Homo sapiens: one gene and its partners. The protein of the gene in region 1 purifies or fractionates together with the protein of each later gene. This does not show direct contact. Each region holds a gene or a part of one and is shown in the gene's direction. Other genes may lie near its edges.

Region 1 (4,438 bases):
AGTTCAAAGCAGTAGAAAATACTTGGTAACTTAGATTTTTCACTAGGTACTCTTGTAATTCTGCCTTGGATCCCTGGACACCCTGGATTTTATTTTTAGGATGTTTGGCCACAAATTGTTACTGTAAATTTTTTTTTAAAAAAAAGCCTAACAGTTAATATTAATTACCTTGTTTGTTACGAGAATGAATGGCTCGGATGTGTGCAGTGGCTCATACCTGTAATCTCAGCACTCTGGGAGGCCAAGGCAGGTAGATAACTTGAGGTCAGGAATTTGAGACCAGCCTAGCCAACCCCGTCTCCACTAAAAGTCCAAAAATTAGCCCAGTGTGGTAGTGTACTCCTGTAGCCCCAGCTATTTGGGTGGATGGAACAGAAGAATTGCTAGAACCTAGGAAGCAGAGGTCACAGTGAGCCAACGTTGCGCCAGTGCATTCTCCATCCTGGGTTACAGAGCAAGACCCTGTCTCAAAAAAAGAAAAAAAAAAAGAATGGTTTTCAACACGTCCACTGCCCGAGTGGAATTATATATAGTCAGAGGTGGGTTTTTTGTGTTTTTTTTGAGGGTTTTTTTTTTCTTTTGACACGGAGTCTCACTTTGTCACCCAGGCTAGAGTGCAGTGACGCAATCTTGACTCACTGCAACCTCAGGCTCCCAAGTAGCTGGGATTATAGGCACCTGCAACCACGCCCAGCTAATTTTTGTGTTTTTAGTAGAGATGGGGTTTCACTATGTTGGCCAACCTGGTCTTGAACTCCTGACCTCAGGTGATCCACCCATCTTGACCTCCCAAAGTGCTGGGATTACAGGTGTGAGCCACTGCGCCTGGTCAAGAGGTAGTTTTTAAATTCATAAAATGGGCTGGGCTGGGTGCAGTGGCTCATACCTGTAATCCCAGCACTTCAGGAGGCCAAGGTGGAGGGTTGCTTGAGCCCAGGAGTTGGAGACCAGCCTGGGCAACGTAGCAAGACCCTGTCTCTACAAAAAATATAAAAATTAGCTGGGTGTGCTGGTATGCACCTGTAGTCCCAGCTACTTGGGAGGCTGAGGCAGGAGGATGGCTTGAGCCTAGAAGGTTGAGGCTACAGTGAGCCATGATCATACTATTGCATTCCAGCCTGGGTGGCAAGCAAGATCCTCTCTCAAAAAAAAAAAGGGACTGGATTACAGTTTTGATTAAAATATGCTTGAAGTTAATAACCTATTCTGGCTTACTGAACACAAAAATAAGTAAAATACATAGTGTACCAGGTGTTGTGTAACAGGAAGAGTGCTTTTCAAGGAACAAAGAAAGTGTCTTTGATAATGAGTGACTTCAAAGCTGATTTCTTAATCTGTGGTCTTGGCTCGTTCTAGTGCCCACCAGAAGTATGTCCGACAAGCCTGGCAGAAGGCAGACATCAATACAAAATGGGCAGCCACACGATGGGCCAAGAAGATTGAAGCCAGAGAAAGGGTAATAACTTAGGGTCATTTGAATTCTGGTCCTTTCTTTTTTTGGAGGGTTCAAGATAGTGTGAGAGGGATAATTTTTATTTGTTGTTTTTTTTTTAACAGAAAGCCAAGATGACAGATTTTGATCGTTTTAAAGTTATGAAGGCAAAGAAAATGGTAAGATTTAAGATCTGTATTTTTGTGTAACTTAGCTTTAAATAATAAGGGAGCAGTAGCCAAATCCCATTTCAGGCTGCCAGCTTCTTGGAAGCTTTCTGTAAAAAAGGAGAATTTATCTTCATTTGTATTTCATGATGTCCCTATGGAATTGTTACCTTTCTTCAGATGTAGTTGTAGGGAAACAGACTACTTAATGCCCTTTCTAAAACCAGCATAAATTGGATTTTATTGTATGTATACACAATAAGTGCTTTCTTACATTGATAATTTTCAGAGGAACAGAATAATCAAGAATGAAGTTAAGAAGCTTCAAAAGGCAGCTCTCCTGAAAGCTTCTCCCAAAAAAGCACCTGGTACTAAGGGTACTGCTGCTGCTGCTGCTGCTGCTGCTGCTGCTAAAGTTCCAGCAAAAAAGATCACCGCCGCGAGTAAAAAGGCTCCAGCCCAGAAGGTTCCTGCCCAGAAAGCCACAGGCCAGAAAGCAGCGCCTGCTCCAAAAGCTCAGAAGGGTCAAAAAGCTCCAGCCCAGAAAGCACCTGCTCCAAAGGCATCTGGCAAGAAAGCATAAGTGGCAATCATAAAAAGTAATAAAGGTTCTTTTTGACCTGTTGACAAATGTATTTAAGCCTTTGGATTTAAAGCCTGTTGAGGCTGGAGTTAGGAGGCAGATTGATAGTAGGATTATAATAAACATTAAATAATCAGTTCCTTTTTTTTTTTTTTTTTTTTTGAGATGGAGTCTCGTTCTGTTGCTCAGGCCGGACTGCAGTGGCGCTATCTCGGCTCACTGTAAGTTCCACCTCCCGGGTTCATGCCATTCTCCTGCCTCAGCCTCCTGAGCAGCTGGGACTACAGGTGCCCGCCACCGCGCCTGGCTAATTTTTTGTATTTTTAGTAGAGACGGGGTTTCACCGTGTTAGCCAGGATGGTCTCGCTCTCCTGACCTCGTGATCCGCCCGCCTCGGCCTCCCAAAGTGCTAGGATTGCAGGCATGAGCCGCCGCGCCTGGCCTAAATAATCAGTTCTTTAATCTCACTCTCTGCCCATACTTGGATAGGTAGTGCAAAATCATTGCAGTCATAATTGATCATGTCATGAGAAATCATGATAACTTAGAACACCAAGTGACACAAGTGACATTTTTTTCTTATGGTCACCTTGGCTTCAGAACATCTTTTTTCCTTGTACAAATATGTTTGCCATAAATAGGTAAAGTGACAGCCTCTTGATGCTCAAGAGTCTAGCAGATTTATTTTATTTATTTATTTTTTTTTTTTGGAGACAGAGTCTTGCTGTGTTGCCCAGGCTGGAGTGCAGTGGTGCGATCTCAGCTCCCTCCACCTTCCGGGTTCAAGTGATTCTCCTGCCTTGGCTTCCCAGGTAGCTGGGACTACAGGCGCCCACCACCATGCCCAGCTAATTTTTTTTGTAGAGACTGGGTTTCACTATGTTGGCCAGGCTGGTTTTGAACTCCTGACCTCGTGATCCGCCTGTCTCGGCCTCCCAGAGCGGGGGATTATAGGCATGGGCCACTGCACTTGGCCTTTTTTTGTTTTTTTGAGACAGAGTCTTGATCTTATCACCCAGGCTGGAGTGCAGTGGCACGATCTTGGCTCAGCGCAACCTCTGCCTCCTGGGCTCAAGCGGTTCTCCTGCTCAGCCTTCTGAGTAGTTGGGACTATAGGTGTGTGCCACCACGTCTGGCTAGTTTTTGTATTTTTAGTGGAGATGGGGTTTCACCATGTTGGCCATGCTGGTCTCGAGCTCCTGACCTCAGGTGATACACCCGCCTTGGCCTCCCAAAGTGCTGGAATTACAGGTGTGAGCCACTGTGCCCGGCCTGCAAATTTTCTTATAAAAAGTAAACTAGGAAAATAGGGCAAGTATAAAAATTGCAGGTTGAGCATATTTCTAATCCAAAAAGCTCTAACCTCTGAAACTGAGCTATGACACTACAATTTAAAAATCCCTAGCCTACCCGCATGGTGGGTTATGGTCAAAATACAGGTACACAGCACTATTCAGTGTCCCTGAGGAAGAAATAGTTAACCTTCAGGGTACATGTATATGAAGCATAAATGAATTTCCTGTATAGACCTAGGTCCCATCCCCAAAGTGTCATGTATATGCACTTAACTCCAACATCAGAACACATCTCGTCCTAAGTGTTTCAGATAAGAGATACTTATCCTGTGTATAGTAGGTTGGACTTCTGTTTCTCTCTACCACAAGATACAGGTAATTTGGGGCAGTAAAAGATCCTGGATAGATTTAAAAATACTACAAAGCTGTACATGAAACAGGATTACTTTTTTTTTTTTTTTTGAGACAGAGCCTTACTCTTGCCCAGGCTGGAATGTAGTGGCACGATCTCAGCTCACTGCGACCTCCACCTCCCAGGTTCAAGTTGTTCTGCCTCAGCCTCCCAAGTAGCAGGGGTTAAATGCGTGTACCACCATGCCCCTCTAATATTGTATTAGAGATGGGGTTTTGCCATGTCAGCCAGACTGGTCTTGAACTCCTGACCTCAGGTGATCTGTCCGCCTTGGCCTCCCAAAGTGCTGGGATTACAGGCGTGAGCCACCGCTTCTGGCCAGGAATACATTTTAAATAAATTTGTTTCCTAACCAAAAGCTAGCTTCAGGCGTCACTGGGGTAAAGGAAAAAGCACATTGATTTGCTTGATAATAGGCAAGTGGTATGGTGTAATAAGGAAAATATGGATGATTTCGGATTACCTGTTCTACTCTGGGAGGTAGAGAATTGTCTAGAGAAAGTGGCATCTATACCTAAAATAAGAAGAAGGTGGTGTAAGGGGAAGAAT
Region 2 (4,438 bases), on another chromosome or scaffold:
GTGTTAGTCACTCACTTAGCTTTGACAATTATTAACTCATAGCCAAGGTCGGTTTTGTTTCATGTTGTATCCCCCCACACAAACTAGATTATTTTGAAACAAATCTTAAACATTGTGTCACAACATTAGCGATTTTGACTTTTACCAGATTGCCCCAGATTAAGGTCACAAAATTTACTTTTAGTAGAATAATAGTTCTCATTTTTGTTTGTTGGGCTTCCCTTCTCTGTTTATACATGATTTCTGTACAGCAGAAAAGAAGAAGAAAATTAACTCTTGATCCAATGCCTTCAGCTCCTCAAAATCAAAATACAACCTTGCTGCTTTATTGTGTACAAAAGCAAAAATTCTTGAGCTATTAATGACTATAATTGAAAAGCGAACAAATACAGATTTCCCCAGTCCTGTTTTGGCAGAGACCTGCCTTTTAACCCACTTTAATAGAGATAACTTTGTGTCAAAGTTAAACTACAGTTAATAATTCATAATGAAAACTTAAAATGTTTCTTTACAGTAGTTGTGTAAAGATACTGCTGTTACCTTAGGTTAAGAATTAAGCAAAAGATAATCTTCTAACATAGAATTGTTTTCCAAAGTGCCCCCGTCTGCCCTATTTCCAAATAACAAATTTAGCAAATATGAATGAAACCTTAATTTTTGTGAATAGTATGAAATCACAGCATAAGTGTTCACGTTTTTCTTTCTTGTGTCTAAAGGATCTCTCTTACAATGGAAGTTGACAGGAATATTATAAATATTATAAATGTCTTTGTTGCATAACTTTCAAATTTCTGGTCGTGAATAGTTTTCAGCTTTTAGGTCTGTTATTTGAGTTTTGTAGGTGTACTTTGAGCTTGATCAGGTACAGTGGAAATGTTACATGTTATGTTTTAGTTATGACTACCTGGAAGATGGGGAAAGATACACCTCTTAAAATTGATTTAGGAAAGAAACGCCAATTTAGTATCTGGGAAAGGACACAACACATTTTTAAAAATGTGTAGTGCTTCCCATTAAGCTTAACGTAAAACTTTTAAGCATTGAGAATTGTTACCATAAATATAGTTTCTTGAGAATAAGTTGCTCTCTTTTAGGTTTCAGCCAGAAAGTCCATGTATATACAGATTACAGCAGGTCCTTGAATAATGTTGTTTCAAGATAATGTTGAGAAAAAAAACTGTCTGTGGAGTTTACACGTTCTCCCTATCCCTGCATGGGTTTTCTCTGGGTACTCTTGATTTCCTCCCACATCCCAAAGCTGTGCACGTGAGGTTCACTGGTGTGTGGAGCTGTGTGTGTAAGTGTGAGTGCTTTCTGCAGTGGATGTCCTGTCCAGGACTGGTTCCGGCCTTGCACCCTAAGCTGCTGAGATAGGCTCCAGCCACCCCAACCCTGAACTGGAATAAGTGGTAAAAAAAAAAATTTTTTTTTTTGAGATGGAGTTTAGCTCTTGTCACCCAGGCTGCAGTGCAATGGTGCAGTCTCGGCTTACTGCAACCCCATGCCTGTAATCCCAGCACTTTTGGAGGCTGAGGTGGGCAGATCACCTGAGGTCAGGAGTTGGAGACCAGCCTGGCCAGCATGGCGAAACCCTGTCTCTACTAAAAATAAAAAAAATTAGCCGGGCTGGGTGGCGGGCACCTGTAATCCCAGCTACTCAGGAGGCTGAGGCAGGAGAGTTGCTTGAACCTGGGAAGCAGAGGTTGCAGTGAGCGGTTATCGTGCCATTGCACTCCAGCCGGGGCAACAAGAGCAAAAGTACTTCTCAAAAAAAAAAAAAAGGCATGTATACTTCACATTTATTTCAGTGTTTAATATTCGAAGTGTTTGGTCTTTATTTAAAAGTTTGGTGATATTTTTCTGATGAGAAATATGCCCTAGAACCTAACTCTTGTTTGTATCAATAAGCGTGTGTTAGTCGGAAGTCTCAGTTTCCAAGAACCTACCCCTTATGTTAAGAGAGGATTTACTGTATTTTAAGTTTAGAAATGGCCATGACTCATGGAACTCTCCTCCATCCCCATTCTAAAGTCCAGATCATTGATATCATTCTGGGTGTTATCAAAATGGATACTGCTTCATCCAGTCTCTCTCCCCAATACCACAAGGTAGTCTCAGTTTGTGGGGCAACTTTCTTTGAGCCTTTTTACTGGATTGAGTAAGAGTGTAATTCAGTATAAAGATGAAACTTTCATGAAAAGGGTATCTTTTTGTGGGATTCCACAAGTCAATCCCAGAGTTTGTCGCCCAGGCTGGTCTTGAACTCCTGAGCTCAAGTCATCTTCCCACCTCAGCCTCCTTAGTAGCTGGGATTATAGGCAGAGGCCTTGTTTTCATGAGCCTCTAAATTGGATCTTCTTATTTGATGTGATACCCAGTGACACAGAATTGTTCAATTTGAGGAAATATAAATTCCTCCCCTCTCAAATAAGAGCTTTGGAGTTGCTTTTCTCTCAGAATGGGATTTTAGAGCTTTCAAAAATGTTTAGAGAATTTTATGACAGATTTGTTTCACACTAGACCTATAACAGGTTATTTTACATTGACTTCTGGTGATGGAGACATTTGTGGTTGAAATGCTTCTCGTGTAATTTTCTACATGAGCTTTTCTTTAAATAAAACTTCACCAGAGTCAAGGCTGTATACCATTTGTGCTGTTCCAAAAAATATAAATTGCCAGTTATCAGTTGAACTATGAGAGGACATGTTAGTTGCTATGGTTATTTACCCCCACCATTTTATTATGAAAAATTTCAAACATATAACAAAGTTTATGAAGTTTTATTGTACATCTCTTTAGATACCATCTACTTTCTATTTTTGCCTCCCTGTTTCATGGTGCTGAACACCGTCTACTATTTTTTTTTTTTTTTTTGAGACGGAGTCTGGCTCTGTTACCCAGGCTGGAGTGCAGTGGTGTGATCTCGGCTCACTGCAAGCTCCACCTCCTGGGTTCATGCCATTCTCCTGCCTCAGCCTCTCGAGTAGCTGGGACTACAGGTGCCCGCCACCATGCCTGGCTAATTTTTTTGTGTTTTTAGTAGAGATGGGGTTTCACCGTGTTAGCTAGAATGGTCTCGATCTCCTGACCTTGTGATCCGCCCACCTCGGCCTCCCGAAGTGCTGGGATTACAGGCGTGAGCCACTGTGCCCGGCATACCTTCTGCTCTTTGTCATGAACATTTTACCATACAGTATTATGAAGCTTGAATAATGTTGGCCAAATCCATTGTTCTCACCTGCTAAGGAGATAATAGGATTATAAATATATAGCTGTGTTGATCTTATCAAATGCCACGGGATGGATGGGCTTGGATATCTGTCTTGTTGACAGCTTAATGCTCTGAACTAGAAAACCTTACTGCAGAGAAAAGTAATATTTTTAAAGTGGTAAAATGGGAATTACTGCAAATAGCTTAATTTGTTTTTTAAGTGTTTACATTCCCATACTGGTGAATAAGGTTGATGTAACAGTGATTTATGTCACCAGATAAATGGAAGTAGAGAAAAATTTCTGCAGGCTGTTAATTGCTGTATATTTTCTGGGATTACATATGTTTATTTGTTAAAGAAGTAGACTCAGGGAACTCCCTCAAAGTATATTTACTGGAAGCAAAAGTGGAAAAATCTATTTGAGAAAGTGTTTGCTTTCGATTAAAAATTAGTCTTCTGAATATCAAATCTGTAACCCATCTGGCATCTGTTTAATCTGGAATCTAATTTGGGAAAGAAGTGTGATGACTATGTGGGTTTATAACAGTAATGGAAGCAAAACTGGCCATTTTATTATGATAGAAATTTTGTGTCATGTCTCCCAGACAATAAAGGCTAAGAAAATCTATTTAAATACATTGGGGTCTTTTCCCCTGAATGAACATGATTGCTGAGGGTTAAACCTTCATTAGATTGCCTCTGCTTTTTTTTTTTTTTTTTTTTTTTTTTTTTTTGTTGAGATAGTCTTGCTCTGTTGCCCAGGCTGGAATGCAGAGGTATCATCTCGGCTCACTGCAACCTCCACCTCCTGGGTTCAAGCAATTCTCCTGCCTTAGCCTCCCGAGTAGCTGAGACTACAATTGAGCACCACCACGCCCGGCTAATTTTTTGTATTTTTAGCAGAGATGGGGTTTTGCCATGTTGCCTAGGCTGGTCTCGAACTCCTGAGCTCAGGCAATCCGCCTGCCTTAGCCTCGCAAAGTGATAGGATTACAGGCTTGAGCCACTGTTCCCGGCCTTGCCCCTATACTTGATGTAGCTACAGAACTGGTTGCTCAGTGAGTGGGTTGGTTTTAGTCAGCATATTCTCTGATCCTATTTAAAATTTTTTACAAGTGGAGTGTTGCTGTAAGTTTTATAGATGTTTATGTGTAAGGACAGGTTTAGTGAATTTGCTGGATAATAATATTTACTGCTATTGAGCTCTTACCATGTGCCAGGTTAG
Region 3 (4,438 bases), on another chromosome or scaffold:
GATGGAGTCTTGCTCTGTCCCCCACGCTGGAGCGCAGTGGTGCAATCTCGGCTCACTGCAAGCTCCGCCTCCTGGATTCAAGCTATTCTTCTGCCTCAGCCTCCCGAGTAGCTGGGACTACAGGCGCCCGCCACCATGCCTGGCTAATTTTTTTTGTATTTTTAGTAGAGACGGGGTTTCACCGTGTTAGCCAGGATGTTCTCGATCTCCTGACCTCGTGATCCGCCCGCCTCAGCCTCCCAAAGTGCTGGGATTACAGGCGTGAGCCACTGCACCTGGCCAGTAGTGGTTGTTTCTTTCATCAAGAGGCACATGTCTGTTGTGTCTTTTTTAATATTAACAACCATTGATGCCTAATTCATTCACCAAAGGGTCTTTTTGTTTTAAAATGTATATTTTTATTTAGACATGCTTTGCTTTAAATAACAATCTGTGTTCTCCCTTAATAAAGGCAGGGGAAATGGAAGGTGATGCAGTCGAAGCCATTGTGGAGGAGTCCGAAACTTTTATTAAAGGAAAGGAGAGAAAGACTTACCAGAGACGCCGGGAAGGGGGCCAGGAAGAAGATGCCTGCCACTTACCCCAGAACCAGACGGATGGGGGTGAGGTGGTCCAGGATGTCAACAGCAGTGTACAGATGGTGATGATGGAACAGCTGGACCCCACCCTTCTTCAGATGAAGACTGAAGTAATGGAGGGCACAGTGGCTCCAGAAGCAGAGGCTGCTGTGGACGATACCCAGATTATAACTTTACAGGTTGTAAATATGGAGGAACAGCCCATAAACATAGGAGAACTTCAGCTTGTTCAAGTACCTGTTCCTGTGACTGTACCTGTTGCTACCACTTCAGTAGAAGAACTTCAGGGGGCTTATGAAAATGAAGTGTCTAAAGAGGGCCTTGCGGAAAGTGAACCCATGATATGCCACACCCTACCTTTGCCTGAAGGGTTTCAGGTGGTTAAAGTGGGGGCCAATGGAGAGGTGGAGACACTAGAACAAGGGGAACTTCCACCCCAGGAAGATCCTAGTTGGCAAAAAGACCCAGACTATCAGCCACCAGCCAAAAAAACAAAGAAAACCAAAAAGAGCAAACTGCGTTATACAGAGGAGGGCAAAGATGTAGATGTGTCTGTCTACGATTTTGAGGAAGAACAGCAGGAGGGTCTGCTATCAGAGGTTAATGCAGAGAAAGTGGTTGGTAATATGAAGCCTCCAAAGCCAACAAAAATTAAAAAGAAAGGTAAAACGAGTTTATCCATAGTGGTTTCATAAAACCATTTTGGGATAAGCATACAACACAGTGCATATGCAAGTTGTTTTATATTAACCGTATTTGTAAAAGGTCGTTATGTGGGTACCGTTCTTTAAAACCAGTCTAAAATAAGTTTTTTCCAGATTGAATGCTCTTTTTTTAATCCCAAAGAAGAAGGAAATGTATTAGTGACATGAGATAATTATGACTTATATTGGGTTTTGTTATTAAAAGCTAATCAAATATATTTGTAGAAATTTAAGATTAGGATTAATCTTAACACTTTGAAACTCTGCAGCAAGTAAGTGTTTTATTTTGCACATAGGTGTAAAGAAGACATTCCAGTGTGAGCTTTGCAGTTACACGTGTCCACGGCGTTCAAATTTGGATCGTCACATGAAAAGCCACACTGATGAGAGACCACACAAGTGCCATCTCTGTGGCAGGGCATTCAGAACAGTCACCCTCCTGAGGAATCACCTTAACACACACACAGGTGCTGGATAAGAATGTTGGGGGCTACAACAGCAAATGCTCAGACTTCGCTTTTTAGTATTCATTCAAGCTGACTCCAGCGGGAATTTAAAGGAAGTTTTTATTATTTCTTATGATGCCCTTTTTGTAATCATGATTTTATTGTAAGCACTTGGACTTAGTTATTATAGACAAATGTAAAGAAAATTTAATGAAAAATAACACCCTCTCTCTTAAAAAAAAGAAGTCTCAGGCAATAGATGCCTGGTACTATGAGGAAGAATGTTAGAAATAGAAGTGAAATCCCAGTGAAACCCTGTCTCTACTAAAAATACAAAAAATTAGCTGGGTGTGGTGGTGGGCGCCTGTAGTCCCAGCTACTCGGGAGGCTGAGGCAGGAGAATGGCGTGAACCCGGGAGGTGGAGCTTGCAGTTAGCCGAGATCCCACCACTGCACTCCAGCCTGGGCGACAGTGCGAGTCTCCGTCTAAAAAAAAAGAAAAGAAAAGAAATAGAAGTGAAATCCTACCTTTATTTAAAAAAAAAAAAGTGGCCGGGTACAGTGGCTCACGCCTGTAATCCTAACACTCTGGGAGGCTGAGGTGGGCAGATCACTTGAGATTAGAAGTTGGAGACCAGCCTGGCCAACGTGACAAAATCACATCCATCTGTACTAGAAATACATAAATTAGCCAGGTGTGGTGGCGGGTGCCTGTAATCCCAGCTACTCAGGAGGCTCAGGCAGGAGAATCGCTTGAAACCTGGGAGGCAGACACTGCAATGAGCTGAGATAGTGCTACTGCACTCCAGCCTGGGCGACAGAGTGAGACTCCATCTCAAAAACAAACCTTAACATTTTTTGTTTCTGGTTGTTTCACGTCAAGGAAGATAATTCATAATTTCAGAATGGAAAAGCTAAGGCACCATTCTGATAATTCAAACATTTATTTGAGCATCCTACTTACTTTAGTGTTCAGATATTCTGATATTAGCTTCATGTTGGCTGTGGCCAGGTTCCCTGAGGTCTCTAAAGTAGAGGGACTCTGTGCACTAAACCTCTCTTTAAGCTTTCCTGAGCTATTTGTTATCCCAGTGTAGGAAGTTGGTTGCAAGTCTTCTCACATGGTTTTTCATGCAGAATAACTTCATTTCATATGACAACTCTTGTTTTTGATTTTTAGGTTTTTAAAAATTTCTAATGACAACCCTTGTTTTAGATTTGTTGTGCTGGTTGTCAGATGACCATGATCAAGTGGGTGTTAATCATAAACAGTATGCTGCACATGGGCACATTCTTCACTAATGTGACTTACTTTTAAACATCTCCCTAATTTCTACTCAGACACTTGATAATATGTTTTATTTGATACTTTGAAGACACTAGGATGGGGCATATGACTAAATAAAAGTAACTGGGTAATCCCAGCACTTTGGAAATCCAATGGGGGGTAGATGACCTGAGGCCAGGAGTTCTAGACCAGCCCGGCCAACATGGCAAAACCGCCTCTGTACTGAAAATACAAAAAATCAGCTGGGTGTAGTGGCACACGCCTGTAAACCCAGCTACTTGGGTGGCTGAGGCAGGAGAATCACTTGAATGCGGGAGACAGAGGTTGCAGTAAGCCAAGATTGTGCCACCGTACTCCAACCTAAGTGACAGAGCAAGACTCTGCCTCACCAAAATAAATAAATAAATAAATAAATGGCCCCATAACAGGACTTCCCAAGATGGGTGTGCCTTGGTGTGGGCATTCTCTATCTGGTCTTCAGCTTTGAAAGTAAGAGGTACAGTCTATCTGGTTACTCAGCAGATTTGGCAAGACTGATTCATACCAACAAAACCCATAAGAGCAGATGCATACACCAAGAGTATCAGTTTATGGTGAGGAGTATACCTTTTCATGTTCCAGATGCAGTTGCATTGCATTCTAGGGGGCGCCTTTGCCTCTGTTACGATGCTGTAGCAGCCGGGCGCCGTAGCTCTCGCCTGTAATCCCATCACTTTGGGAGGCCGAGGTGGGTGGATCACCTGAGGTCAGGAGTTCAAGACCAGCCTGGCTAACATGACGAAACCTCGTCTCTACTAAAAATATAAAAATTAGCCGGGCGTGGTGACGCATGCCTGTAGTCCCAGCTACTCGGAAGGCTGAGGCAGGAGAATTGCTTAAATCCAGGAAGCAGAAATTGCAGTGAGTGGAGATCGCACCATTGCACTCCAGCCTGGGCGACAGAGTGAGACTCCATCTCAAAAAAAAAAAAAAAAAAAAAAGATGTTGTAGCAATTGAAAGCTAACTTGGTGAGGATGAGCCTTGATGGCTGGGCATGGTGGCTCACACCTGTAATCCCTGCACCTAGGGAGGCTGAGGCGGGTGGATCACTTGAGGTCAGGGGTTTGAGACCAGTCTGGCCAACATGATGAAACCTCATCTCCACTAAAAATACAAAAATTAGCCAGGTGGCCGGGTGTGGTGGCTTACGCCTGTAATCCCAGCACTTTGGCACTTTGGGAGGCTGACGCGGGCAGATCACCTGAGGTCAGGAGTTCAAGACTAGCCTGACCAACATGGGGAAATCCTGTCTCTATTAAAAATACAAAATTAGCCGGGTGTGGTGGCACATGCCTGTAATCCCAACTACTCGGGAGGCTGAGGCAGGAGAATCACTTAAACCCAGGAGGCGGAGGTTGCGGTGAGCTGAGATCGTGCCATTG
Region 4 (4,438 bases), about 160 Mb from region 1:
GTGGGTCCCCCGAGTACCTCACATATTTTAAATATAATGTGGGGTTTTCATCTTTTCAGTCATGTAGACTGTACAGTTTCAAGTTGTTTGTTTCTCCGTCTCCCTTATCTGCACATTCAAGCAGTTGTCAATCCTTGTTCATTCTGCATCTGAAATGTTTATTGTAGTAGAGTATATAGAAAAATGCAATTTGATTAACATAATTTCTTGCCTTCTGATAGAATATAGAACAATATTTTCCAGTGTTAAAAAGGAAGGCAAACCTTCTGAGACAAAATGAAGGGCAGAGGAAACCAGTAGCAGTTCTCAAGAGACCTAGCCAGCTAAGCAGAAAGTAAGTGCTCAAAAATAATAATGTGTTATTTTGCATTAAAAACACTTCCTGCATTAAGTGGTGTGAAGAATGGATTTGCAGTGATTTTTTTAGTTATCTGGTCATTTTCAAGACAGATATTTGGGATGTCTATCTGAACATCCACATGGATGTATCCAGTAATAGCTTGTTTATTAGATGAATTCTTACTGATGAAGTTAACCGATATAAGCTTTTTAAAAAGCATCACTCTGCTTCTTTACCTCTTTGACATATGGAATAAAATTGCAAAAGCTGATCACTTTAGTAGAACTCTCTTTTTTTTCTCCCTGTTTTTTGAGACAGGGCTTCTCGATCTGTTGCTGAGGCTGGAGTGCAGTGGCGCCATCACTGCTCCCTGGAGCCTTGGCCTGCCCTGGGCTCAAGCGATCCTCCCACATCAGCCTCCTGAGTAGCTGGGACTGCAGATACATGCCACCATGCCCTGCTAATTTTTTTTTTTTTTTAATAGAGACAGGGTCTCACCATGTTGTCCAGGCTGGTCTCAATTCCTGGCCTCAAGTGATCCTCCCACCTCAGCCTCCTAAAGTGCTGGGATTACGGGCATGCGCCCCTGTGCCCAGCCCTGGTAGAACTCTTAACATCTTAGTGGGAATTATTCAAAATTGAGAATTCTGAAATCTCAATTTGTTACTCAGTCTGGATGGCTCTTACTAGAACACTGAATCACAATGTATGTTATTTGTGGAAAAATCAAACTAGAAAGGGAGAATTCTTCATGAACACTTGTTAAACTGAAATTATTTTTATACTAAATTGAATAATAAAAACCAAAAATTATGGCCTGTGAGCTGGGTGCAGTGGCATGTGCCTGTGGTCCCAGCTACTTACGAGGCTGAGGCAGGAGGATCACATGAGCCCAGGATTCAGGGCTAACCTGCTGGGCAACATAGTGAGACCCCCATCTCTGAAAAAGAAAGAAAAGAAAAATTATGATCTGTTGTTATGGCATTCTGTTCTCTGTAAGGACAAAGTAGATGAAGTTGATGAGGTGTGAAGTTTCCTTATTCAGTTTCAAGTATTATTTATTTATCTTTCGTGGAAGATAAGTCAGCAAAAAAAACCTGGAATGAGGTTTTTAAAAAATGCAGTGGCTGGGCACAGTGGCTCATGCCTGTATTCCCAGCACTTTGGGGGGCTAAAGCAGGCAGATCACCTGAGGTCAGGAGTTATGTGGCAAAACCCCATCTCTACTGAAAATGCAAAAATTAGGCCGGGTGCGGTGGCTCACGCCTGTAATCCCAGCACTTTGGGAGGCCGAGGCGGGCGGATCACGAGGTCAGGAGATCGAGACCATCCCGGCTAAAAACGGTGAAACCCCGTCTCTACTAAAAATACAAAAAATTAGCCGGGCGTGGTGGCGGGCGCCTGTAGTCCCAGCTACTTGGGAGGCTGAGGCAGGAGAATGGCGTGAACCCGGGAGGCGGAGCTTGCAGTGAGCCGAGATCCCGCCACTGCACTCCAGCCTGGGCGACAGAGCGAGACTCCGTCTCAAAAAAAAAAAAAAAAAAAAATGCAAAAATTAGCCCGATGTGGTGACCGGTGCATGCCAGCAATCCCAGCACTTTGGGAGGCCGCTGCGTGTGGATCACCTGAGGCCAGGAGTTCGAGACCAGCCTGGCCAACATGGTGAAACCCCATCTCTACTAAAAATACAAAAATTAGCTGGACGTGGTGGTTCATGCCTGTAGTTCCAGCTATTTGGGAGGCTGAGGCAGGAGAATCGCTTAAACCTGGGGGGCGGAAGTTGCAGTGAGTCAAGATGGTGCCACTGCACTCCAGCCTGGGTGACAGTGAGACTCTGTCTCAAAAAAATAAAAATAAAAAAACAAAAAATGGAATGGCTGGAATTGCAGTTTTAACCATCATCTTTTGGGAATCACTTGATAGTACCTTTTGTGAAAGGGGACCTTCTCAAATAAGAACCCATCATTTACGTGAGACTTACATGTTAATTGGGTTAGCTAGGGCAGTTTTGAACTTGAATCTCTGAAAGATTGGAGGTAAGACTAGGGAATCTGTTAAACACTCGTTTATATAGTGTTTCATATTTATCAATACATCAGTTGAAGACATGGAATGTTAGAGGATTGAATATTTCATAGATAAATATGAAATTTTAATTTTTCGTACTTCACTAACTTCCTATAGAAAACAAAAGAAATTAGGTGCCGCAAACCACCATGGCACATGTATAGCTACATAAGAAACTTGCACGTTCAGCACGTGTCTCAGAACTTAAAATTAAAAAAAAGAATTGGTGACAGTCATAATTAAGAGCATTGTTCTGTGCATGAAAGAACAAGAAATAGAAGAGTATAAGTTTTTCTGTGGTTTGTATATTTTTTGAGATGAAGTCTGTGTCGCTGGGCTGGAGTGCAGTGGCGTGATCTCGGCCCACAGCAACCTCTGCTTCCCTGATTGAAGCAATTCTCATGCTTCAGCCTCCTGAGTAGCTGGGACTACAGGCGTGTGCCACCAAGGCTGGCTAATTTTTGTGTTTTTAGTAGAGACGGGGTTTTACCATGTTACCCAGGCTGGTCTCAAACTCCTGACCTCAAGTGATCCACTCACCTCAACCTCCCAAAGTGCTGGGATTACAGGTGTGAGCCATAATGCCTGGCCTCTATGGTTTATGTTAATACATAATGGTTTCTGAGTGAGGAAGGAAGAGAAAGCTGGAGGAGGAGATGTTATTTTTCAAACCTTTCTCTTTATTTTTGGTCTTCAGTTTATTTTACGTCTTCAGTTTGGCCTATGTGTGGTTTTTCTTTGTACTAATCCTATAAATTGTAAAGTTATGTTTTCACCAAATATAGGAAATAGCACTAAAAATGTGATTATTAATGTCTTCAGAAGATATATGGGATATTAGAGGATTGAATATTTGGAAGATAAAGTGGTTTGAAATTAACACGTGGTTATGTGCTATGCTTCGGAGGGAGGTATTTGTTAATCAAATCTCAGTAGCTTCATGTTAATAAGCAAATAATTCAGAGTTGTTTGTTTCTTGCACCTCATGTTTGCAGCCTATGAATTTAACTATTTTTGCTTATTTTTCCTCAAGATGTTTGAAAGTAGTTAAATGGCTTAGCATGGCCTATGTGTTTTTGTTGCAGAAATAACATTCCAGCTAATTTTACCAGGAGTGGAAATAAATTAAATCATCAGAAAGATACTCGTCAGGCAACTTTTCTTTTCAGAAGAGGCCTGAAGGTATTTAAAAACTTTGGCAGTGTTTTTGTTTGTTTGTTTGTTTTTTCCCAAAGAGGATCCTGAGCAGCCACCTTTAGTAAGCCTCAGTCATAGGCAGCATTGGGTTCAGGATGTGAGGCACGTGGTAGTAGATTAGTTCTTCCTGTTGTATGTTTTTTATTTCCCATCTTTTCTTACCCTCAATAGCAATGTCTTATAAGAATTTAACTCGTTATTTGGGAATAAACCTGTATTTGCCACTCGTTCTCATGTAGGAATTCCAACAGGGAACTGTTGCCAGAATAGCGTGGGCCCCTCTGCTGCACTCACGCACACACCCCACTGGGTTAGGAAGTTCTAGAATAGCACGGGCCCCTCCGCTGCACTCACGCACACGCCCCACTGGGTTAGGAAGTTCTAGAATAGCGCGGGCCCCTCCGCAGCACTCACGCACACGCCCCACTGGGTTAGGAATTTCTAGAATAGCGCGGGCCCCTCCGCTGCACTCACGCACACGCCCCACTGGGTTAGGAAGTTGTAGAATAGCGCAGGCACCTCCGCTGCACTCATGTACACGCACCACTGGGTTAGGAAGTTCCAGAGCAGGATCGCTCTTTGGATTCAAATCCTCTGCTTTCTGTGGTACCTACTGCTTTTTTTTTCCCTTCAGGTGCAGGCCCAGTTGAATACAGAACAACTGCTAGACGATGTAGTAGCAAAGAGAACTCGTCAGTAAGTTTCCATTTGTTTTTTAAGATGTTATTTCAAAACTCCCAGAATACTAACTACCCAAATTATCATGTACCTCAGTCCAGAAGAAATTAATTGAAACCCAAAATAAAATTCAGTCTGAAAGCTGGGCATAGTGGT
Region 5 (5,102 bases), on another chromosome or scaffold:
AATAATAATAATAAAAAAATAGCTGGGTGCGGTGGCTCATGCCTGTAATCCCAGCACTTTGGGAGGCCAAGGCAGGTGGATCACCTGAGGCTAGGAGTTCGAGACCAGCTTGGGCAACATGGCGAAACCCCGTCTCTACTAAAAATACAAAAAATTAGCTGGGCATGGTGGCGGGCACCTGTAATCCCAGCTACTTGGGAGGCTGAGGCAGGAGAATCACTTGAACCCGAGAGGTGGAGGTTGCAGTGAACCAAGATCGCACCATTGCAACCCCACCTGGGCAACAAGAGGGAAACCCTGTCTAAAAAAAAAAAAAAAAAAAAGGATTTATTATGTGCTCACTGCTGGCTCAGGCCCCAACCTCTGGCCTTTTAAGTTACCTAGACTTGAGTTCTGGCATCCAGAGCTAACAATCATTCTTCAGATCACCCACACCGGATGGAATCTCTAGCTATTTTATCAGCTAAGAAAATCAGGGTAATAACGAAAAAGCAGTAGGGCCTGGGGCTAGCACTGAGTTCAGATCCAGCTTTCAGGAGGACAGTGGAAAGAGTGCAGAGCCTCTGCCTAGGCCCTGGGCCCCACGAAGCAGGACAGGCAGAGCCCAGGGTACTGTTGGCATCTCTGTCCTTCCCTTCAGGACACCCCTTACCTATCTGCCTCAACCAGACTGGGTACAAAATAAAGATCAAGTCTCCCGGAAACCAAGCACCATTCCTGCTTCTTGGTTAATTTTCCAACAGCTTTTGAAGCAACTGGAGTCAGGGCTTCCCTGATGGGCAGCACAGGTGACCAACAACCAGAGAGGGGAGAGCCTGGGTTGGTATCTTTCAGCTTCCCCCTGCTCCGCTCACCTCCTGCCTCCTGGGGCACCAGATGTGCAAGGTGAATGTTTTCATTTCACTTTCTAGAACAGACAGCAAAGCAGGGAAGCGGCTGAGAGGGTGAGAAGGCGCCCCAGGGGCTTGGGTACAAAGGGGTTGGAGTTGAGCGTGTGGAAATTCAAGGCGAAGGTTAGCCCTGACCTCCCCCAAGGGTTAGGTCCTCTCTGGACCACAGCCCTCTATAAACAGCTTCTCAAACCAAGAAGCGAGGGTGACCAGTAGCAGTTCCCCTCCCCTGCCATTGTAAAAGGCTTCTCTGATTTAATAGACCGTTTGATCCCACCACCTTTACCTCCCACTCCCAAGAAAATTCTTCTCCGTAATGGCACCACAATGTACCCAGTTATTTCAGTCTCAAACCTGGCATCCCCCTCATTTCCTCTCCCCCGACATCTAACTCCATCACCCACCCCACCTGCTCCACATCAGCCCAAATCTGACCTGTTCTCATTTTCCCTGGGTCCAGTCCACCACTATCTCTAAATGGTCTTCCCGTGCTTCCACCTGCGCAGACCTACAGTCCATCCCCCACACAGCAGCCAGCATCATCTTGTTAAAATGTAAATCGGATCCAGGCTTGCCCCTGCATTAAACTCACCAGTGACTTCCCATCACCCTCAGAATGAAATCCCAGCCCGGGGCCCCATGCAGCCTTGCTTCTCGCCAGCCTCAGCCCCTCCAGCCCTGGGTCTCTGTAGTTGCAAGGCTTGGGATTTCGTCCCCTTAGATCCTTGCAGGAGTACGGGGGAGGGGGGCCCTTCTTGTCACTCAGCTCTCATCCCAAATGCCACTTCCTCACAGAGGCCTTCCCTGACCAACCCCTCAAATCATTATTGGAGACCCTATTGAATAGTAATTAGCCGTGTTTTTAACGGGTGATGTATTCACGTTCCAGCACTTAAAAGCCTCCTCCTGACCCTTGCATTCCTAATTCTCTTCATAATTATGATCTTTTTAAATGCATTTGGCTCCGTGTTCCTCCACGAGAGCAGAGGCTTTGTTCCAACCGCCTAGCACGGCACGCCAGCAGGAGCCCAGTAATTGTTGAATGGCTCAATGTTCGGAGCGCAGGGGCCGCTCTGGGACGAGTCGGATCGAAGTGCTACACCTAGGTTTGTTTCCGAGATGGGCCCTTAGAAATGCCCCCCTGGGGCTCCAAAGGGGCAGATGCCACAGCCGCCAGGGCGGAGCGGGTGTGAGCAGAAGGCTGGGAAAGATGGGACGCCGCTAGGCGAGGGACTTCCGCTCAGAGCTACGGCGGAAATGCCGCTCTTTTAACTCTGGGCCGGTCTCTCTTGGTTCCCCCGCCCCTCCGGGTTCTTCCGCCTCCGAGCCGACACAAACCGGTGCGCATGCGCCGTGCCCTGACCTGGAAGCGGCTGGGGCCGGAGCACACGTGTTTCGTGTTTCGGTGAGTGTGGCGGAGATGGAGAGCCGGGATCCCGCCCAGCCGATGTCGCCTGGAGAAGCGACGCAGAGTGGCGCCCGGCCTGCCGACCGCTATGGCCTATTGAAGCACAGTCGCGAGTTCTTGGACTTCTTCTGGGACATTGCGAAGCCTGAGCAGGAGACGCGACTTGCGGCCACGGAGAAGCTGCTGGAGTATCTGCGTGGCAGGCCGAAGGTGGAGTGGCGGGGTCTGGGGCAGAGGCTGCGCATATCCCGGCAAGGAAGCGGCGGCGGGCCCAGGGAGTTGAGACTGGGGGCACGTGGTCGCGAACCTGGATGCCAGGGTGCGCGGGGGCGTGCACCTTGTTGTCACCATTGAACACGAGGGTGTGCTTGGTTCCGCAGGGGTCCGAGATGAAATATGCCCTGAAGCGTCTAATCACGGGACTCGGGGTCGGGCGAGAAACAGCCCGGCCCTGCTACAGTTTGGCCCTGGCACAGGTGAGGTGGTGCTCCTGGCAGGGTCCCAGCCATCCAGGTCAAAATGGTGGGGTATGAGGAGGGCGGGTGTGGTGTCTCAGCTGTGGCGGAGGGGCAGCCCGAGAGAGAGGTCGGGAGTGGCAGAGCAGACTGGAGGCCAACCTGAGGGAGGCCTCTTCATGAAAGTGGAGAAGGTGTGAGCAAGGCCTGGCCAGGTTTTCTATTTGGTGCTTGGGTTGCCCGGCCTCTTAGGTACACTTTCTGGGAGCAGTGAGCGCTGGGTGGGCTCCCTTAGGCCTGCAGAGGCATTCAGCTGATTGGAGTAGACCACTCTCTGAGGCGCCTTGACAAGGGGCAGAGCAATAAAGACCCAGGCCTGCAGGATCAGCCTGAGGGGAGCTCAGACCACGTGCGGAGAGAAGACCCAGTGGCTGAGCATTTCAGACTAGTAATCTAGGGGCCATAGAAGGTACATAGAAGGTGGGACTAGGGACCTGAGGCTTCTTGGGAGAAGTTGAAGGGGGAAGGGAGGTTAAGGTTTGTGAAGACGTAGTTGGGCCACTCTCCTGAACCCTCTTCCTCCTGCCACACAACTCCTGGCAGCTGTTACAGTCTTTTGAAGACCTCCCCTTGTGCAGCATCCTGCAGCAGATACAAGAAAAATATGACCTGCATCAGGTGAAGAAGGTGAGAGTGGGGCCAGGGAGGTCAGCAGCCCCAGGGGTGGGAGGCTTGGGGAATGGGGAGTTCCAGGGCCCCTCATGCCTGTGCCTGGAATCCTTTTCTAGGCAATGCTGAGACCTGCTCTCTTTGCAAACCTGTTTGGAGTGCTCGCCCTCTTTCAGTCAGGTCGGCTGGTGAAGGTAAGAGCTTTGGAGGGACTGGGGGAATGTAGGCTGGCTTGGGATGGGTGGGGGACAGTCGTGTGCCCTGCTCATACCCTCTGTCCCTCTGTGGGGACCAGGACCAGGAGGCACTGATGAAGTCGGTGAAGCTGCTGCAGGCCCTGGCCCAGTACCAAAACCACTTGCAGGAGCAGCCCCGGAAGGCCCTGGTGGACATCCTCTCCGAGGTATGAGCTCCCCAGCTGTGCGGGCCCAGGCAACACTTTGTTACAGAGACATCAAGGGGGCTCGGATGAGAATCTGGAACAGCACTGTTCCATAGAAATACAAAGATGTATAATTTGAAGCGTTTCAGTGACTTTGTTGAAAAGGTAAAAAGAAACAGGTGTCATTTAGTAACATTTAGTGACATTTGACTTTATCTGGTATATCTAAAATATTATTTCAGTGTGCATTGGTATAAAAAAGTGTTGAGATATCTTACACTCTTTTTGTCAGGTGTCTCCAAAATCCAGTGTGTATGTTACACTTAGGCACACCCCTGTTCAGATTAGCCACCTTTCAGGCGCTCAGCAGCCCTGTGTGGCTGTGGCTACCGTATTGGGCAGTGCAGCTCTGGAACTGTGCCTGGCACGTGGCAAGTATATAAAACGTTTGCCATTGTTATCCTGGTCAAGGCTGGCCCCTTGTGGGCCTCCACTGCCCTACTTGGGAAGGTAGCACCCTAGGCCCTTTTGTCACCGAAGAGAAAGGCAGGGGTAGCAGGTCTCCAGGCCAGGGCTTACTGTGCAGTCTTGACCTCAGAGCCAGAAGGACCTGAATTCGAATCCCAGCTCTCCACCTAGGGCTCCTCGTGTATGAAATGAGCTAGTACTCTGAAATACCAAAAAAAGGAATAATTAAAAGGGTAGCTTTGACCGGGCATGGTGGCTCACGCCTGTAATCCCAGAACTTTGGGAGGCCGAGGTGGGCAGATCACTTGAGGTCAGGAGTTCAAGACCAGCCTGGCCAACATGGTGAAACCCCATCTCTACTAAAAATACAAAAATTAGCTGGGTGTGATGGCGCACACCTTTAATCCCACCTGAGGCAGGAGAATTGCTTCAACCTGGGAGGCGGAGGTTGCAGTGAGCCAAGATCACACCACTATACTCAGCCTGGGTGGCAAAGTGAGACTCTGTCTTAAAAAAAAAAAATAAGGGGTGGGGGGCAGGTACCTCCAGGGGCCAGTTAGCGTCAGTGGGATGCTTGTCAAAAACCCCGCTGCCTGGGAATTTGAGTTTTGTTAGCAACTGGCCTCTGATGACTCTGATACCTCACCAGGTGGCCCCGTGTCAGGAGCAGGTAGAACAGGATCCACCAGGCTCACCCCGCAGAGGAAGTCACGATTTCTTCTCCCTCCATCCTTAGGTCTCGAAGGCCACATTGCAGGAGATCCTGCCGGAGGTCCTCAAAGCCGACTTGAATATAATACTCAGCTCCCCTGAACAGCTAGAGCTCTTCC
Region 6 (3,804 bases), on another chromosome or scaffold:
CTCACTGCAGCCTCAAACTCCTGGCATCAAGCAATCCTCCTGCCTCAGCCTCCCAAAATGCTGAGATTACAGGTGTGAGCCACCATACCCAGCCTAGTATCTTTACCATGAGGAAAATAAAAGGTTCTGACAATTGGTTTAAGTGGAACAGTTTTGTTGGATGTATGTTGGCTGGGCCCCTTTTATTCAGTGGAAACAAACTGTGTAGACGGTATTCTCAGGAGATGATTGAGATGCTGTCTGAGAATAATTTTTAAAGGAAAACCAGTGTTGTAGAATATGTTAAGATTTGGTGCTATGTGGGCTGTAGGTACCTTCCTTAAGACCTATTTGTGATACCACTGAGACAAGACAGCTGAGTGGGATAGATCAGTAACCCAGCCTAGAACGGGATGTTGTAAACAGGCCATTCACTACCCTGGATCTGAGCTTTCCCATCTGTGAAAGGATAATGGATTTGCCAGTGTTCTTTCTAGTGTTGCTGAGCATAGACTGAGGTGAGGGACACAGAAAAAAAAACAGTATATTTCCTTTTAAATAGTTTACCTTTGTTTCTGTTACACTTCAGTTATTAGAGGAAGTAACACAAGGGGATATGAGTGCAGCAGACACATTTCTGTCCGATCTGCCAAGGGATGATATCTATGTGTCAGATGTTGAGGACGACGGTGATGACACATCTCTGGATAGTGACCTGGATCCAGAGGAGCTGGCAGGAGTCAGGGGACATCAGGGTCTAAGGGACCAAAAGCGGTAAGGGGCACGTGTGCACCAAAGGGAATGCTGCCACTCTGAGGAAGTGTTAGGGTGGGTACTACCAGAGCCTGAGTAGGGCAGCAAGGGCTCCAGGCAATCTGGGTCTCTGAGCCCCCTACTTTCCTTTGGGTCTACAGTATGCGACTTACTGAAGTGCAAGATGATAAAGAGGAGGAGGAGGAGGAGAATCCACTGCTGGTACCACTGGAGGAAAAGGCAGTACTGCAGGAAGAACAAGCCAACCTGTGGTTCTCAAAGGTAAGGAGAGGCCGGGGGCAAGACTGCGGGGAGATGAGTCTTCCTTGGGAGAAGGGCAGCTGATGTTCTCCTATCACAGGGCAGCTTTGCTGGGATCGAGGACGATGCCGATGAGGCCCTGGAGATCAGTCAGGCCCAGCTGTTATTTGAGAACCGGCGGAAGGGACGGCAGCAGCAGCAGAAGCAGCAGCTGCCACAGACACCCCCTTCCTGTTTGAAGACTGAGATAATGTCTCCCCTGTACCAAGATGAAGCCCCTAAGGGAACAGAGGCTTCTTCGGGGACAGAAGCTGCCACTGGCCTTGAAGGGGAAGAAAAGGATGGCATCTCAGACAGTGATAGCAGTACTAGCAGTGAGGAAGAAGAGAGGTGAGTAGTTGCAGCTGAGAGAAGGGATGGAAAGGAAGCGGTGGCTTGAACCATTTCTCTAAATTGGGGGTTCTTAATCTTGGCTGCACATGGGGAGGGTTAAAAATACTGTACTGACGATCCTGATTTAACTGGTCTGGGGTACAGCCTGCATGGCAGGATTTTTGCAAATTCCGTGGGAGTGCGGTCTGAGTAGTACAGAGTGGTGGAATCACTCAGAGTCCTCCCCTCTTCACAGCTGGGAACCCCTCCGTGGTAAGAAGCGAAGCCGTGGGCCTAAGTCAGATGATGACGGGTTTGAGATAGTGCCTATTGAGGACCCAGGTGAGAGCTCTGTATGCAGTGGAATGAGAAAAGACCACTGGAAGTCTCAGTATTGGGAATTGAGCTTTGACCTTTCTCCTTCCCTCTCTAGCGAAACATCGGATACTGGACCCCGAAGGCCTTGCTCTAGGTGCTGTTATTGCCTCTTCCAAAAAGGCCAAGAGAGACCTCATAGATAACTCCTTCAACCGGTAAAGGGGCCATAAACTCATCAAGAGTGACCCAGGGTCTGGTGGGTAAATGGGTAATTTTTTGTTTTTGAGATGGAGTCTCGCTCTGTTGCCCAGGCTGGAGTGCAATGGCACGATCTTGGCTCACTGCAGCCTGATTCTCCTTGAATCGCTTGAGTCAGCCTTCTGAGTAGCTGGGATTACAGGTGCCAACCACCACGCCCAGCTAATTTTTGTATTTTTAGTAGAGATGGGGTTTCACCATGTTGGCCAGGCTGGTCAAACTCCTGACCTCAGGTGATCTGCCCACCTCAGCCTCCCAAAGTGCAGGGATTACAGGCGTGAGCCACCGTGCCCAGTCTGGTAATTTCTTTAGAAAGCCTGGAATGTTGGATATTAGACAGATGTCCTTTCCACTCAGGTACACATTTAATGAGGATGAGGGGGAGCTTCCGGAGTGGTTTGTGCAAGAGGAAAAGCAGCACCGGATACGACAGTTGCCTGTTGGTAAGAAGGAGGTGGAGCATTACCGGAAACGCTGGCGGGAAATCAATGCACGTCCCATCAAGAAGGTGGCTGAGGCTAAGGCTAGAAAGAAAAGGAGGGTAAGTGATGGGGCCTCCAGAGATTGGGTGGGGTGGGGGTGGGGGGATGGGGAAGAGGTCACCTGACAGGTTCCTTTGCAGATGCTGAAGAGGCTGGAGCAGACCAGGAAGAAGGCAGAAGCCGTGGTGAACACAGTGGACATCTCAGAACGAGAGAAAGTGGCACAGCTGCGAAGGTAATGGGAGGACACCACAAAGGTACACAGGGCTAAAAGTGCAGCAGAAAGCAAGCCTCTAACCTCTTCTCTTCCCCCCTGTAGTCTCTACAAGAAGGCTGGGCTTGGCAAGGAGAAACGCCATGTCACCTACGTTGTAGCCAAAAAAGGTGTGGGCCGCAAAGTGCGCCGGCCAGCTGGAGTCAGAGGTCATTTCAAGGTGGTGGACTCAAGGATGAAGAAGGACCAAAGAGCACAGCAACGTAAGGAACAAAAGAAAAAACACAAACGGAAGTAAGCAGAGCTGCCAGGCTCCCAGGAGAGCATGGGGACTAGGAGGAAGGGTGTGGCATGGCTCAGTCTGGCCCCCTTGATTACCGGCCTAGCCCCTGCTCACATCACAGCTGTCTGAAGAACAGTGAGGTGGAGTGCCTAGAACTCCCGTGGTGGTCCTGAGCAGAGAGGAGGATGTCCTCCTGCCTGCCTGAAGGTCTCCCATGAAAACACTGCTGAACTGTGTTGACACTCATGACCCTTTTTTTAAACCGTTAAAGGGAAGTTCGGTGTTGGAGCGATACTCAATGTAGTCAGTCTACACCTGGACGTGTGGGCCACTTAAGCCCTCCCCACCCCCATCCTATTCCTGAATAAAACCAGGATAATGGAAGAGTTGTCTTTTCTGACAGTTTTAATAAGCACTTCCCTATCTGTCCCTACACTGTGTGCGGCACTATTCTTAATATGTACCAATTCATAGACAGAAATGACAAACGATCCACAGGTCCCGGTAGTAAAACATTTACTAGAGAGCAAGCAGAAAGGAATGCACATCTTAAAGAAACCTTCACAAAGTCACAAAAGTCAAAGTTTGTATATTTCTTTTCCTTTTTATAAACGATAAACAAAAATCATCAAAATCATTTCAGCAAAAGACTTTTCTATCATTGGGGCAAGTTAAAAAAAATACAATGAGATAGAAGACACTTTAAAAGCTGTTGTTGGGTTTCTTGTTTAATTTTAAATTTAGCAATACCATCTCAAACCTGGAGCAATCCTGGAACAGTTACCAGGATCACCTTTTCCCTTCAATCCTTGTGGCTTCTGGGAATCTTCAGAGCCTGGGTCTGAAAGGTGTTTCCTACATGTCTCAGGGCTGGATGCAAACCT
Region 7 (3,960 bases), on another chromosome or scaffold:
GCCTTCCACTCTCAGGCCTGCATCCCTAGTGGTGGCTGACTTCGGCTGTGGGGATTGCCGCTTGGCTTCAAGTATCCGGAACCCTGTGCATTGCTTTGACTTGGCTTCTCTGGACCCTAGGGTCACTGTGTGTGACATGGCCCAGGTAAACCCCTATGTTATCTGGCTTGTGCTCTAGGGCCAACCTCCGTATGCTAATCTCTAACCCTTCCTTCCCCTTTCCCATCCTGGTATCTCAGTGCTGGCTTTCTTCTTCTGCACTGTGTGCCTTATACAACACTCTCACTCTCCACAGGTTCCTCTGGAGGATGAGTCTGTGGATGTGGCTGTGTTTTGCCTTTCACTGATGGGAACCAACATCAGGGACTTCCTAGAGGAGGCAAATAGAGTACTGAAGCCAGGGTAAGAGCCCCCAGGACACAGATGCATGTATGTATGTGTGCATGCATGAGTCTGTGCACTTACACAGAACTTTCTGTCTTTCTCAGGGGTCTCCTGAAAGTGGCTGAGGTCAGCAGCCGCTTTGAGGATGTTCGAACCTTTCTGCGGGCTGTGACCAAGCTAGGCTTCAAGATTGTCTCCAAGGTGAGGGCCCCAAGACATCTGTACCTGTTTTTGTCTCATGTGGCCCTATTCAGGGTACTGGTGTTCAGGAAGGAGGCTTTAGGCACAGGAACAGACATTTTGCTCCCCAACGGAAGTGGGAGCCCTGGGAAGCTTTGTGAGCAGAGGCAGTACATAGAGGGAGGTGTTTTAAGGAGTTGGGATGAGGATTTGGTTCTCACTGGGTCTTTTCTGCCCCTAGGACCTGACCAACAGCCATTTCTTCTTGTTTGATTTCCAAAAGACTGGGCCCCCTCTGGTAGGGCCCAAGGCTCAGCTTTCAGGCCTGCAGCTTCAGCCATGTCTCTACAAGCGCAGGTGACCTCTGGATCTTCCTTGAAAGGGGAGGCAGATCTCAAACTCCAGGCTCAGAACTGTGAAGACTGTTTCCAGCCTGGCTGTGAGCCAAGACCTGGTTCCTGGTGGACCCTGAGGACAAAGTGTGATAAAACCTCTGGCTCAGACTTGCTCTACTGAAGGCTTCTTGGTTATAAGATGCATAAAGTCACTGGGGCTAGCTAAACAATAAAGAGTTTATTGTGAGAACATGGGGATATCTGTCTCATGACACTTCAGGTGTTATGAAAACTAGATGGTTTGGAATTCAAGGCATCTTTAGGTTTTGCTCTTCTTTCCAACTAAGAAGCCACATGGCCTTCCTGTCCTGCCATCTCCACTCTGCTGTCATCTGATCTGTCTACAGATCAGCTTCCTCTGCTCACCCATAGCTTCTGCTCCTTCAGCTTCAGTTTGCCCAGGCCTTCAAGGTTGCAGACAGGCAGCTGTTGCTGTTTGACTCTGAGGCAACTGGTTGTCCACCAACATCTTGGCTCAAGACATCAGTCTGAGCCACCAACTTGAGACTGTTTGGTTGTCCCCATACCGAGCATTTCTAGTGGTTTATCTTTCCCCTCTCCCCTCATCTCCATTTTTGGAACCATATAGCATCAAGCCACTCCCAACACCTATTGTCCTGTGGGACTTTGGGATGTATATAGCTGAGAGCACAGATTTTGGAATCAGGTAGACCTGGATTTAATTCTTGGCCTGCTACCCAGAGGCACTTAAAGTCATTTAATCTCTGTATATCACATTCCTCATTTGGAAAATGGTAGAATTTTTGTCTTGCAGGGTGGTTGTGTGGGTTAACTGGAGAAATCTGTAGCCAGGGCTGGGAACATAGGAGGTGCTCAGTAAACTAGCTATGACTATTATGTGTTGTAAGCCTTATTGTTTTTTGAAGATCTTCCCTAGGCTGGTTGGAGGCTGAGGGGTAAAGAATGGATTTGTTGACTAAGGAAGCCTCTGGGAGAGGCTAGACCTTTCAACAGGCCTGCTTCATAGGCTATTTAATGACTTTTAATAGATTCTGAGCTTCTGTCCTTGGAGGGGTAGTGAGGGAGCTGGGTCTCTGTTCATAAACAACTTGTTGATGCCATGTGGGCTTGGGGGCATTGGGCTGTTCATTGGCGGAAGAGTCTGTCCACTATCTCTGCCTTGCAGTGGACTCAGATCAGCATGTCCTGGGAAAGCTATAGGCAAGGTGCTGAGGGAAGGTGAGTTTGAATGATAGATTCTAGGCCTCCCCCAAAAGGTATCTGCCATGTGCCCAGGTATAAAGATATGGCCTCTTGTACTTGTTTCCAGGAATACCTGACAGTACCCATTGGGAGATCATAGGTTCTATGCCCTGAGCCAGTTGGATGCCTCTAATAAGGGGATGGAGGTTTTGAAACAGGCTGTAGTCCAGAGGGCATGTTTGGAGGCTGGGCTGTGAATCATTAGGCAGGCACTACACAGTGCCTCTACACGTACTGTTCTTTCTGCTGGATATTCATCGGACTGGCAGTTTGCTCATCTTTCCGAACAGCCTAGTTGTTTCCTATTCTACTCCCAAAGCAAAATCAGTTCTTCATCTGTACTCTCAAAGTACTATGTGAAGAGTGCTACTTCAGCTTCTAAATATTGCATTGTGATTCCTTTGTGCATTTGGCTGCTGTTTTCTCAAGCCATGTTTATCTTTGTATTCCCGGAGCTTGTCATTTGAGATATAGCCAGTGTACTTATTCACCTAGGGAGAGATAAGGAATGACAGGGTCCAGTTGAGTGGGATAGATGAGAACAGGGGTGTTATAGAAACCCAGGTACTAGGGCACAAGATGAGGGCACTGTTGACTAGTCATGATGGAAGAAGTAGGCAGACAGGAGAACTTCATTAGGTAGAATTGGTGGGATGTTGAGGTTGGTAAGAGAGGAATCTGAAGTAAGTTCCAGGTTGCTCAACTGTGGGTAGGCTGGTGATGCCATTCAAAGTGTTGGATTTTAGGAAGTGGGACATGCGTGAAATCTGTGCTGGGGGTCTGGGAATCAGCAGCCTAGAGGTGGTAATTAAAGTCAGAATAGATGAGATATTCAGGGTAAGATAATGAGAAGAGAAAATGGCTCAGAATAGAACTGAGGAGCATGTCATGGATGGGTAAAGGAAAATGAAGCAGTGAAGGTGATGGAAGAGGAGAAGGTTCACCCAGAGATGTAGGAGTAAAACCAGGAGAGTTAATTTTTTTTTTTTTTTTTTTTTAAGACAGAGTCTTGCTCTGTGGCCCAGGCTGGAATGCGGTGGCGTGATCTCAGGTCACTGAAACCTCTGCCTGCTGGTTCAAGCACTTCTCCTGCCTCAGACTCCCGAGTAGCTGGGAATACAGGCACATGCCACCACGCCCAGCTAATTTTTGTATTTTTAGTAGTGACGGGGTTTCACCATGTTGGCCAGGCTGGTCTCGAACTCCTGACCTCGAGTGATCGGCCTGCCTCGGCCTCCCAAAGTGCTGGGATTACAGGCATGAGCCACTGTGCCCAGCCAGTGTTTTTTTTTTTTTTTTTTTTATGGGAGGATGGGCAGGTTGTTAGCTGTCGAGTGCTATTGAGATGAGAGAGAACTCAGAATGCAGTGGGGTAAGGATTGCTGAGTAATGTGGAGGGCCTGTTTGAGGTAAATGGCAGTGGTAAGAGGTTGCTCCATTATGAAAGCCCTCTTCCAGAGTTCCTGATAGGGCCCCAGAAGTTCATTTCTGATTGCTTTGATTTTTTTTCAGGGGAGCAGGAAGCCAGTTTATCATTTGAGAGTGAGAATAGGGGAGAGGAAATATCTTCCAGGCCCACAGTGCATAGAAATACCCAGTCAGGGCAAAATGATTTATCTGTTTACCTCTCCTCATCACTTGGGCCCAGAGCAATCAGCAGTGATTAGGTAGAGAGGAGCCGAGCAGAGGGAAGAGCATACCAATCACTCCTCCCTTTCCCAGTGCAGGCTCCTAGACTTAGCTGGGGCAGAGCTGGGAGAGGAAAAAGGGATTTAAA

The links.
Region 2: the proteins of RPL14 (region 1) and STAU1 purify together in Homo sapiens (affinity purification with mass spectrometry; 6 studies listed by BioGRID and IntAct, with this or other methods). This does not show direct contact.
Region 3: the proteins of RPL14 (region 1) and CTCF purify together in Homo sapiens (affinity purification with mass spectrometry; 5 studies listed by BioGRID and IntAct, with this or other methods). This does not show direct contact.
Region 4: the proteins of RPL14 (region 1) and FYTTD1 purify together in Homo sapiens (affinity purification with mass spectrometry; 3 studies listed by BioGRID and IntAct, with this or other methods). This does not show direct contact.
Region 5: the proteins of RPL14 (region 1) and MYBBP1A purify together in Homo sapiens (affinity purification with mass spectrometry; 3 studies listed by BioGRID and IntAct, with this or other methods). This does not show direct contact.
Region 6: the proteins of RPL14 (region 1) and FTSJ3 purify together in Homo sapiens (affinity purification with mass spectrometry; 4 studies listed by BioGRID and IntAct, with this or other methods). This does not show direct contact.
Region 7: the proteins of RPL14 (region 1) and RRP8 purify together in Homo sapiens (affinity purification with mass spectrometry; 4 studies listed by BioGRID and IntAct, with this or other methods). This does not show direct contact.

The regions. Positions count from the first base shown.
Region 1 is NC_000003.12:40,460,051-40,464,488, forward strand, and holds part of RPL14 (large ribosomal subunit protein eL14), read left to right. Parts: intron 1-1,356; coding exon 1,357-1,456; intron 1,457-1,557; coding exon 1,558-1,611; intron 1,612-1,888; coding exon 1,889-2,182; 3' UTR 2,183-4,438. UniProt on the Homo sapiens protein: Component of the large ribosomal subunit. The ribosome is a large ribonucleoprotein complex responsible for the synthesis of proteins in the cell.
Region 2 is NC_000020.11:49,181,276-49,185,713, reverse strand, and holds part of STAU1 (double-stranded RNA-binding protein Staufen homolog 1), read left to right. Parts: intron 1-4,438. UniProt on the Homo sapiens protein: Binds double-stranded RNA (regardless of the sequence) and tubulin.
Region 3 is NC_000016.10:67,610,373-67,614,810, forward strand, and holds part of CTCF (transcriptional repressor CTCF), read left to right. Parts: intron 1-451; 5' UTR 452-460; coding exon 461-1,241; intron 1,242-1,578; coding exon 1,579-1,749; intron 1,750-4,438.
Region 4 is NC_000003.12:197,769,911-197,774,348, forward strand, and holds part of FYTTD1 (UAP56-interacting factor), read left to right. Parts: intron 1-221; coding exon 222-334; intron 335-3,492; coding exon 3,493-3,589; intron 3,590-4,238; coding exon 4,239-4,300; intron 4,301-4,438. UniProt on the Homo sapiens protein: Required for mRNA export from the nucleus to the cytoplasm. Acts as an adapter that uses the DDX39B/UAP56-NFX1 pathway to ensure efficient mRNA export and delivering to the nuclear pore.
Region 5 is NC_000017.11:4,552,533-4,557,634, reverse strand, and holds the start of MYBBP1A (myb-binding protein 1A), read left to right. Parts: upstream 1-2,250; 5' UTR 2,251-2,310; coding exon 2,311-2,508; intron 2,509-2,678; coding exon 2,679-2,774; intron 2,775-3,356; coding exon 3,357-3,440; intron 3,441-3,541; coding exon 3,542-3,616; intron 3,617-3,717; coding exon 3,718-3,825; intron 3,826-5,008; coding exon 5,009-5,102. UniProt on the Homo sapiens protein: May activate or repress transcription via interactions with sequence specific DNA-binding proteins. Repression may be mediated at least in part by histone deacetylase activity (HDAC activity).
Region 6 is NC_000017.11:63,818,933-63,822,736, reverse strand, and holds the end of FTSJ3 (pre-rRNA 2'-O-ribose RNA methyltransferase FTSJ3), read left to right. Parts: coding exon of another isoform or gene 1-64; exon of another isoform or gene 65-148; intron 149-568; coding exon 569-753; intron 754-893; coding exon 894-1,014; intron 1,015-1,093; coding exon 1,094-1,383; intron 1,384-1,621; coding exon 1,622-1,707; intron 1,708-1,798; coding exon 1,799-1,898; intron 1,899-2,298; coding exon 2,299-2,482; intron 2,483-2,563; coding exon 2,564-2,658; intron 2,659-2,742; coding exon 2,743-2,935; 3' UTR 2,936-3,304; downstream 3,305-3,804.
Region 7 is NC_000011.10:6,597,111-6,601,070, reverse strand, and holds part of RRP8 (ribosomal RNA-processing protein 8), read left to right. Parts: intron 1-15; coding exon 16-145; intron 146-295; coding exon 296-402; intron 403-488; coding exon 489-585; intron 586-805; coding exon 806-925; 3' UTR 926-3,960.